Linked DNA regions of Homo sapiens. The protein of the gene in region 3 interacts with the protein of the main gene of each other region in a biochemical or structural test. Each region holds a gene or a part of one and is shown on either strand. Other genes may lie near its edges.

Region 1 (3,059 bases), on a different chromosome or scaffold from region 3:
TTTTGTTTATCCACTCATTTTTTTATATATTATCTTTTTTTTTTACATATTATCTTTAATTTTTTATCCTATCTATTCATTTTTGTTTGTTTGTTTTAAGGCAGAGTCTTGCTCTGTCCGCCAGACTGGAGTGCAGTAGTGCAATCTCGGCTCACTGCAACCTCCACCTACCAGGTTCAAGCGATTCTCCTGCCTCAGCCTCCCGAGTAGCTGGGATTACAGGTGCATGCCACCACTCCCGACTAATTTTTGTATTTTTAGTGGAGACAGGGTTTCACCATGTTGCCCAGGGTGGTCTCAAACTCCTGACCTCAGGTGATCCACCCACCTTGGCCTCCCAAAGTGCTGGGATTACAAGCACGAGCCACCACACCCAGCCAAGATTTGAGCTTTGGATTCAAACTGAACAGAGGCTGGGTGTGGTGGCTCACGCCTGTAATCCCAGCATTTTGGGAGGCTGAGGTGGGAAGATCGCTTGAGACCAGGAGTTTGAGACCAGCCTGGGCAACATAGCAAGAACCCCATCTCTACAAAAAAATTAAAAATTGGTCGGACATGGTGGCATGAGGAGGCTGAGGTGGGAGGATCGCTTGAGACCAGGAGTTGGAGGCTGCAGTCAGCTATGATCACACCACTGCACTCCAGCCTGAGCAACCCTGCCTCTAAAAACAAACAAAAAATGGAATTGAACTGATCGGATGGCCTAGGAGGTGGGTTCTATTATTGTTCCCATTTCACAGATGAAGAAACTGACTTTGTCTGACTCCAAACATTCTGCTTATGCTCCATGCTGACAACCACTTTACAATGAATGAATCAACTGGAAAGAAAAGATTCATGAAGGGGTTCCCCTAAGAAGCTGGCACTCCCTGTGCCTCTGGAACACGGAGTCATTCTGCAGATGGGCTGGGTGAGGTCTCCAGCCCTGGAAACTGCACATTCCTCAGCTTCCCATTTCACCGAGGGCACTAGAGCTCACCCCACTGTTTGGTAGATACAGGGTGATGCTCTAAAATGAACCCACCATCCAAGTCTCTGCTTCCCCCTGAGCAAGAACAGGGGAGCCTGTGGCGTCCCGATGCGCGTCGGGCACTGGCTGAGCACTTCTCACGTGCTGACCTGTCTAATCCGCACCGCCAGCCTAGGAGCCCGTGAGATCATTGTCTCATTCCACAGATGAAGAAACTGAGGCTGAGAGAGGTGGGCTGACTTGCCTGAGATCGCCTGGTGGAAATGAACTCTGCTCGGGCCTCTTGGGGCCTCAGTGGCTCCAGAAATTGCAATGGGTAGACGACGCTGGAGCAGCAGGGGCCCCGAGCCAGTGGGGACAGTTCCGCCCTGCCATCCTGGCCCCACTGCCCCAGCCTCACCTGAAGCACCACCTGCGGTCAGGAGTGCCGTCCGAGCTCTTGCCCACGGTGACCATCTCCCCAGAGCGGAAGGCCTTCCTCAGGAATACGGGGAAGGAGCGCTCAATGTCCAGGATGGTGGTGGCCCACTGCGGGGAGGGAGGGTCAGGAGGGACATCGGTGAGCCTCACAGCCTGCGCCTGCCGCTCTGGTGGCAGAAATGAGACAACGGGCCAGGGTGGGCCCAGAACTAGGCATTTAGACTCCTACTCCCCACTAGACACAGGGTTTATAAACTCAAATACCCACAGGTGGCAGGCAGGAAAACAAATGGGTGAAACAGGATCAGGTGCAGAAAGGCTGCCGCCCAAGCCCTATCACACTTACACAGCAGTTGCCTCTCAGTGAGGGAGGGGTAGAGACTGGGGAGAACAGGGAGCAAATGCCCACGTGTAAGGGGGCAGCTGCCACTCACCCCACCTGAGGGCTGCCAGGCAGGAATCCGGACCCTGCACTGCCTGGAGCTTCCAACTTTTCAAGAAAAGCCAGAAATCTGGGTTTTCATAGGGAATCTCTTAATTTTTAAATTTTGCAGTTTTTTGTTGTTGTTGTTGTTTTTAATATAATGGTCTGATGCTGGGTGCAGTGGCTCACACCTGCAATCTCAGCACTTTAGGAGGCCAAGGCAGGTGGATAGCTTGAACTCAGAAGTTCAAGACCAGCCTGGGCAACATGGTGAAACCCCATCTTTACAAAAAATACAAAAATTAGCCGGGTGAGGTGGTGCACACCTTAGCCCCAGCTACTCGGGAGGCTGAGGACAGAGAATCACTTGAGCCTGGGAGGCAGAGGTTGCAGTGAGCCAAGATCACACCATTGCACTCCAGCCCACAGGATGCCCAGTTTGCATCCTGTGAGTAATGCCCAGTGGGGAAACTGAGGCCCAATGAAGTAAGCAATATAGATAAAGGTTAAGAGCAGGCCAGAGCTGTTTCCCTCAGACCCAGTCCTGGGAGGACAACCTTGGGCCCTTTTTTCTCACTGCACCATTTTCCTGAAATGCACAGTCAAGGTAAACACGGGTGCTGTATTCCTGGGCCGTGGGGCAGCACTGTTTATTAGGACACCAGGTTTGTAGGCTGCACCTGGCCTGGGAGGGCTGTGATCCCAGGGCCTGTTCTTTCCAGGATTGCATAGAAAGCTTTTGGTAAGTAAAAACTTTCTGCAGCTCCCCGGGCCAAGGCGGCCCCTGTCCCCATTGGTTTCTCCTCTAGGAAGCATGCTCACAGTTGCTAGAAAAAGACCCCCATGAGAATGCTGACATCCCTGTGCTGGAGTGCTAGAGCACAAAAGCTGCCCCTGGGCTCAGCGTGGGACCCCTGCTGAAACGCTGATGCCCACGGAGCACTTTCTGAGCCGGCAGAAGTCACTCAGTCATGCTAGGTGGAGCCGACTGTGTCCTGTGAGCTGGACCACAAGGAGAATCTGAGCCCACTGCTGGCAGCCAGGCAAGAAGCCACCTCAAAATTCACTAGGCAGCTCTGGGAAGTCAGCAGCAGCCTCTGATGCCCATTTTACCGACAGAGAAGTGGAGGGAGAATGAGAAGACACTGCTTGCTCAGAGTGGAAGGCCGAGGAAGCCAGTCGGGTGGGTCTCCTCGGAAGGACGAGGGTGGCTGGTAGAGTGGGGCTGGGGGCCCTGGGGCCTCA
Region 2 (3,654 bases), on a different chromosome or scaffold from region 3:
AATCAAAGCAACTATCACTTATTGAGCACTTAATATATACCAGGTACTTTGCAAGGCACTCAGTTTTAATCTTTTCAAAATTCTAAACGTCAGAAAACCCAACTTCTGGTGGTTAAGTGACTTTGTCGACAGTCACAATCTAAGTGACAGGGCCCTCTTCCCACTCTGCTATGCTGCCTCTGAAGAAGCCAGCTCCTTACTACTTTTCTGGAGTTCTACCAGGCATTTTCTGGCTTTTCGAAGCAAAGGTACTTCCCATGGCAATCCACCTCCCTAAATAGAGGAAAACAAGAACAAAGGCAAAACAAAAAACAAAAACAAAAAATACTGAGTGACCTTCTCCACACTCTAGAAACCCTGACAATGTCAAAAATTCCAGTCAAAATACAACTTTAACCTCACTCCTATGATAAAATCAGAAATACCAAAATAATACACAAGCCTATAACAGAACTTGCTCACCCTCAAAAGTCCTTCTAGAAAGTCCTAGGTAACTTCCCCCACTTTTAAAAATTTTAATCTTTAAAACTGTGGTGAAATAGACATAAAATTTACCACTCTTAAGCGTACAGCTCAGTGGCATTGAGTACAGTTACACTGTTGGAATCCATCCCAGGACTTTTTTATCTTCCCAAACTGAAACCTTTACCAAGGTCCCCAATTTCAAGGTCTCTTGGAAAACATCATTTCTTCCCTTCTATTAAGACAAAGCTAAGCTCCTTCCTCCCCTCTCTCCCAGTTTTGTGTGCACCCCTGGTGAGGAAAGGTGCAGCAATAATATAGAAGACAGCCAGTGCCACCATCTCAATTTAACCACAGGAGAGGGTGATGTTTGACCTTCTCCAAGAGCCAGTCTATGCTCTGCATTTCTACGAAGACTTTGCTTTTCTACCATCTTACTTCCTGTAGGCTTTCTGGAAAATCAAGGGAAGATGTGAGTATAATTGGGATAAATCATCTTTTAGTTTGTCAGTAAACAAATACTTTGTGCCAGGTATCATCCTGGGAAATAGGACAGAGTGGAAGACAAGACAAAGTTCCTATCTTCCATTAGATCTTACTTTAGATAGAAGAATAATTATACAGTAGTATACCTGTGGGGCAGGGGCAGGGGGTACCTCCCAAGTCCCCCAGTAGATGCTTGAAACCAAATACAGTACTGAGCCTATATGCAGCATATTTTTTCCTATACGTACATACCTATGAAAAAGTTTAGTTTATAACTTGGGCGCAGAAAGGGATTAACAACAATAACTAATACGGGTACCTGAACATAAACACTGCCATACCATGACAGTTGATCTGATAATCGAGACAGCTACTAAGTGACCTGCCATTAGTCACTCAGTACATATTACATATTAGTATGTCTTCACATATTAACATATTTATTAACAGTGGCTGTCTGGGTGATGGCATTACTGACACCTTATTTACTCCTTAACATTCCTCTATATCTTCTAATTTTTCTATAACATCTGCATTTTTTAAAAGTGAGAAAACAGTAACAAATATTATTCTATAAAATAATATCAACAAAGGTCAGGATTGTTCTAGCCAATTTCAACTCTTGGCCCTGTTTCAAGAGTGACAAAAATAGGGGTATTCTCCTATCAAAGTAGCCACCCTTCCTTGCCTCTATCATGCTCAGTACCATGTTCCCCTCTATCTGCCCTTTTTTCTTTCATATGTACAATAAACATGTATTAGGTACCAGGAAATCTCGAACTTCCTTGAACCATGAATATCATAGAGACCAACTTGCCCCATGCACATCAATTCAAAGCGGACAGACCACATACAAAATCATTAGCCACCTGTGGTTGAGAAACAAATTGTGGTTAACTTGATTAACTGAGAGAACAGTACAGGGTAGCTAACAAGTCTGGAAACGTAGGTGAACACATAATAGTTTACTGATATTGCATTATAATCCATGAGAAAATATCTTTGTTTCAAGACTTTATGGCCAATCTATAGAAAATCTAAAGTGAAAATCCAGTGGGCCTCATCAAAGATACACAGACTGCAAATAATGGGAAATGCTAATTAAAGCAACAATGAGGTATCATTACATACCTAGCAGAATGGCCAAAACCAGAACACCATCAACACCAAATGCTGGTGAGGATGTGGAGCAACAGGGATTCTCAATCACTGCTCGTGGAAATGCAAAATGGTACAGCCAACTCGAAAGACAGTTTGGCAGTTTCCTACAAAACTAAACATACTCTTACCATATGATCCAGCCATATGGTAAATACGCACTCTTTGGTATTTACCCAAAGGAGTTGAAAACTTATGTTCACACAAAAGCCTGCACACAGATGTTTATAGCAGTTTTATTCATAACTGTCAAAACTAGAAGCAACTAAGATGTCCTTCAGTCGGTGAATGAATAAATAAACCGTGGTATATCCAGAGAACAGAATATTACTGAGCACTAAAAAGAAATGAGCTAGCAAGCCATGAACACTTTAAATGCATTATTACTAAGTGAAAGAAGCCAGTTTGAAAAGGCCATATATACCGCATGATTCCAACTATCTGACAATCTGGAAAAGGCAAAACTATGGAGACAGTAAAAAGATCAGTGGTTGCCAGTGGCTAGGAGGGAGGGAGACAGCACAGAGAATTTTTTTTTTTTTTTTTTTTTGTTTTGAGATGGAATTTCGCTCCTTGCTCAGGCTGGAGTGCAGTGGCGTGGTCTCGGCTCACTGCAACCTCCGCCTTTAGGTTTCAAGCGATTCTCCTGCCTCAGCCTCCTGAGTAGCTGGGATTACAGGCGCATGCCACCATGCCAGGCTAATTTTTGTATTTTTAGTAGAGACGGGGTTTCACCATGTTGGCCAGGCTGGTCTCGAACTCCTAACCTCGTGATCTGCCCGCCTTGGCCTCCCAAAGTGCTGGGATTACAGGCGTGAGCCACCGTGCCCGGCCCGCACGGAGACTTTTTAAGGCAGTGAAACTACTCAGTGTGACAATATAATGGTGGATACAAGTCCTTGTAAATTTGTCCAAAACCATAGGATAAACAGCACCAAGAGTGAACTTGATTGTGAACGATGGCGTTTGGGTGATGATGACGTGTCAGTGTAGGTTCCTTTGTAAGAATGTACTACTCTGGTGCAGGATGTTGATAATGGGGGAGACTACGCACGTGTTGGGGGGCAGGTGGGATACAGGATGTCTCTGTACGTTCTTCTCAATTTTGGTTTGAACCTAAAACTGCTCTAAAAAATGAAGTCTAATTTAAAAACTGGGAAATAAGACTTAATAACTTCGGAAGCTGAACCTGGAGCTCCTGGCAGTATCCTTTCTAGCCCCCAGTCTGCCTCAAATTGGCTCTCTGAATGCATGTGCCAAATGCAGGGTTCACAGTCTGTGCTCAGGAACCCCTAAATGCTGATCAGCTTCCACAGACAACCAAGGACCTAAAGATCTCTTTTGAACACTTCTGCAAACAGTCTAGTAACTCTTACACTGAAATACTGACTTTTAATAAACTTGTGTCTTTTGCCAGCAATAAAATTGTGGGATAAAATTATTCTCTCCTTGTGACTGGTAATGGAAACTTTAAATAGTGACCAGCTTTTCAGAGTACTGTAATATACAAATACTATACAAATACTATAGTGGACTTCATTAACTTCA
Region 3 (3,654 bases):
TGCAAGCCTACAGTCTCAGCTACCTGAGAGGTTGAGGTGGGAGGATGGCTTGAGCCCAGGAAGTCGAGGATGCAGTGAGCTATGATCATGCCACTGCACTGGGTGACAAAGCAAGACCCTGTCTCAAAGAGAAATTTTCTTTGAATGAAAACATACTGTTTTTATCCCAATCTTTTTTTTCTTTTTGAGATGGAGTCTCTCTCTGTCACCCAGGCTGGAGTGCAGTGGTGCGATCTCGGCTCACTGCAAGCTCCACCTCCTGGGTTCAGGCGATTCTTCTGCCTCAGCATCCCGAGTAGCTGGGACTACAGGTACAGGTGCACACCACCAGGCCCGGCTAATTTTTTGTATTTTTAGTAGAGATGGGGTTTTACCATGTTAGCCAGGATGGTCTCGATCTCCTGACCTCGTGATCTGCCCGCCTCGGCCTCCCAAAGTGCTGAGATTACAGGCGTGAGCCACTGCACCTGGCCTATCCCAATCTTACTAGAGAGAAAACACAAGGAGAGAAGCTAAGCTACTGGCTCAAAGTCGTGGTGACAGCGCTGGGATGTGAAGCCATCTACTCCAACGCTACATTCTCTAGCAGGGCATCCCTGACCCCAGCGTCCACCTAACTAGGTTTAGGGTGGATCCCAGGCATTTGTATTAAAAAAAAAATCTGGCCGGGCACGGTGGCTCACGCCTATAATCTCAGCACTTTGGGAGGCTGAGGCAGGTGGATCACTTGAACTCAGGAGCAGCCTGGCCAACATGATGAAACGCTGTCTCTACTAAAAATACCAAAATTAGCCAGGCGTGTTGGTGTGCACCTGTAATTCCAGCTACCTGGGACGCTGAGACAGGAGAATTGCTTGAACCCGGGAGGTGGAGACTGCAGTGAGCTGAGATTGCACCACTGCACTCCAGCCTGGGCGACAGAGTAAGACTGTGTCTCAAAAAAAAAAAAAAAAAAAAAAAAAAATCCACAGGTAATTCTGCTTCGTGACGAGGGTTGAAAAATTACTCTAGGTGAGAATGAGAAGATGAAAAATCTTAGTTGTAATTTAAGAATTATTTAAAAATTAAGATTAAAACAAAGAAATTGCTATGGCAAGTATGGAAGCTAAGAAGGTGCTGGGGCGGGGGGCAGAGGCTGGATGAACATTGTTGCAGGTTGTGGAGGAGGCTTTACCTGGAGGTCCTCCTCTGATAGGAGGATGATGCTGGACAGATCTTCTTTCAGCTGCCTGGCCACATTCTTCCACTTCAACCCTGCCCCGCTGTCTGTTTCATCTACATCAAAGGACTCTTGGGAAATCCAAGCTGTACCTCCATCTGACACATGGGAGAAAATGCCAGTCACAGAACAACCTGAAGTGCTGTTTTCACCTCCTCCCCCAGCACACACAGACCTCTTGAGGATCTAGATTAATTTCAATGGGAAAGAAGCATCTTATCTCAAGGATTCACAGGAGGGTCAATATCCATCCAGGACCTTGATTTTCCCTCTTCTTTCATTTTTTTTTTTTTTGAGACAGAGTCTCACTCTGTTGCCCAGGCTGGAGTGCAGTGGCACGATCTTGGCTCACTGCAACCTCCACTGCCCGAGTTCAAGCGATTCTCCTGCCTCAGCCTTGCAAGTAGCTGGGATTACAGGTGCCCACCACCATGACCAGCTAATTTTGGTATTTTTAGTAGAGACGGGCTTTCACCATGTTGGCCAGGCTGGTCTCAAACTCCTGACTTCAAGTGATCTGCCCACCTCGGTCTCCCAAAGTGCTGGGATTACAGGCATAAGCCACCGTGCCTGACCCTCTTTCATCTTTATCTCTGTGTGCAACGGCTCTGTATTCTTCCATAGAAAAAGCCATTTAAACCCAATGTGTGGTCACACCTACAAGGAATCCAATCACACTTCCCTTTCTGGTTTCTGTGTGTCCAGGTGTGTCCTGTTTTTTATACGAAAACGGTCATTTGTGCCAGCATTTCTCTGTGCTTGGGGATTGGTCCCTTCTTTAACTGGCAGAGCTGTAGCCATCGATTGCTGTCCCTTAGGCCTGAGCACAAAGGTGGCTGGTAGGGCCACTGCTGTAGGATGACTTCCTCAATTTTGTGGCACACTTCAGGACACTTTTTTTTTTTTTAAGTCCCTCCCTAAAACTAATCCCCTCTCAAGACACTTCTTGATCCTTGGTCACCAATGTTAGTCCCCTTTCTATCTCCTGTGATGATGATGATGGCAGGGACAGGTAACAATTATTGAGTCCTTAACTATGTGCCAGGTAAGATCTAAACACTTCATATCAGTGGTTCTCAAGTGGGAGCAATTTTGCCCCCCAGGAGACATCTGACAATATCTGGAGTCATTTATTCTTGGTTATCACAGTTGTGGGGGGAGGTTCGTAACATCTAGGATGCTACTAAACGTCCTATCATACACAAAGCATCCTCTTCACAACTCCAGCCCCAAATGTCAGCAGTGTCATTGAGAAACCCTGGTTTGATATGTACTATATTATCTTTACAACAATCTTAGGGGACAGGTTCTATAATTATTATGTCAACAAGGCACTGAGAAGTTATGTAATTTGCACAAGGTCACCTGGTTAGTAAATGGTAGAGCCAGGATCCAGACCTCAACAGCTGGACTGCAGCCTGCAGCACTGAGCTCCCTGCCAGGCTGCATTTCAGTTGCTGTCTGTCCATGAGTTAGTTGAGAACTGGGCCCATGTCTCATTCATCTATTTTTTTTTTTTTTTGAGACAGAGTCTCGTTCTGTCGCCCAGGCTGGAGTGCAGTGGCACAATCTCAGCTCACTGCAACCTCCACCTCCCAGGTTCAAGCAATTCTCCCGCCTCAGCCTCCCAAGTATCTGGGATTACAGGTGCCTGCCACCATGCTCAGCTAGTTTTTGTATTTTCAGTAGAGATGGACTTTCGCCATGTTGGCCAGGCTGGTCTCAAACTCCTGAGCTCAGGTGATCTGCCCACCGTGCCTGGCCTCATTCATCTTTATCCCCAGGACTCAGCACCATGTCTGGCACATAGAAAGTGCTCAGTAAATATCTGTTGAACAAATGCTTAAAAAGCCAGACAAATGGCAATTGTCTGTGCAGTGAAAGTAATCATGATGGATGCTGTACTGCATAGGCCGTTTTATACATGGCTAGAGTTTCTTACCTGAATTGTTGTATGCCCATTTCTCATTACTAGCCAATGCCACAAACTTAGTATTGGAAGGTAGACACAGAAAGTAATCGTCATCATCCACTATGGTGCCATCCTCTGCCAGGACCAGGGTGACTGGTGTCAGGGACTTATCAATGGCCAGAATGTCACAGGCTGAAAAGAATAAAATATTTGGCAAATGACAAATAACCGTAAGGAAATTACATCTATCCCTGCATCTCAAGTATGTATGGCTCCAGAGCTGAGCAGAACTCCTGGTAGGTAATAACTAGAATCACAATCATCACTTCTAGCACTACCAGAACACTCATCACGTGCCTGATTCTGTTCTAAGTGTTCTTTTCTTTTTTTTTGTAGCAGGGTCTCACTCTGTTACCCAGGCTGCAGTGCACTGGCGCGATCTCGGCTCACTGAAACCTCTGCCTCCCAGGTTCAAGTGATTTTCCTGCCTCAGCCTCCCGAGTAGTTGGGATTATAGGCGTGC

Evidence for each region.
Region 1: the proteins of DFFA (region 3) and TRPV4 interact in a test that uses a peptide from one of them, tested with the Homo sapiens proteins (one large-scale study listed by BioGRID).
Region 2: of the proteins of DFFA (region 3) and CASP3, one has a biochemical effect on the other in vitro, tested with the Homo sapiens proteins (one study listed by BioGRID).

The regions. Positions count from the first base shown.
Region 1 is NC_000012.12:109,785,340-109,788,398, forward strand, and holds part of TRPV4 (transient receptor potential cation channel subfamily V member 4), read right to left. Parts: intron 1,558-3,059; coding exon of another isoform or gene 1,537-1,557; exon of another isoform or gene 1,499-1,536; coding exon 1,371-1,498; intron 1-1,370. UniProt on the Homo sapiens protein: Non-selective calcium permeant cation channel involved in osmotic sensitivity and mechanosensitivity. Activation by exposure to hypotonicity within the physiological range exhibits an outward rectification.
Region 2 is NC_000004.12:184,639,395-184,643,048, forward strand, and holds part of CASP3 (caspase-3 isoform a preproprotein), read right to left. Parts: intron 1-3,654. UniProt on the Homo sapiens protein: Thiol protease that acts as a major effector caspase involved in the execution phase of apoptosis. Following cleavage and activation by initiator caspases (CASP8, CASP9 and/or CASP10), mediates execution of apoptosis by catalyzing cleavage of many proteins.
Region 3 is NC_000001.11:10,466,016-10,469,669, forward strand, and holds part of DFFA (DNA fragmentation factor subunit alpha), read right to left. Parts: intron 3,324-3,654; coding exon 3,162-3,323; intron 1,318-3,161; coding exon 1,175-1,317; intron 1-1,174. UniProt on the Homo sapiens protein: Inhibitor of the caspase-activated DNase (DFF40).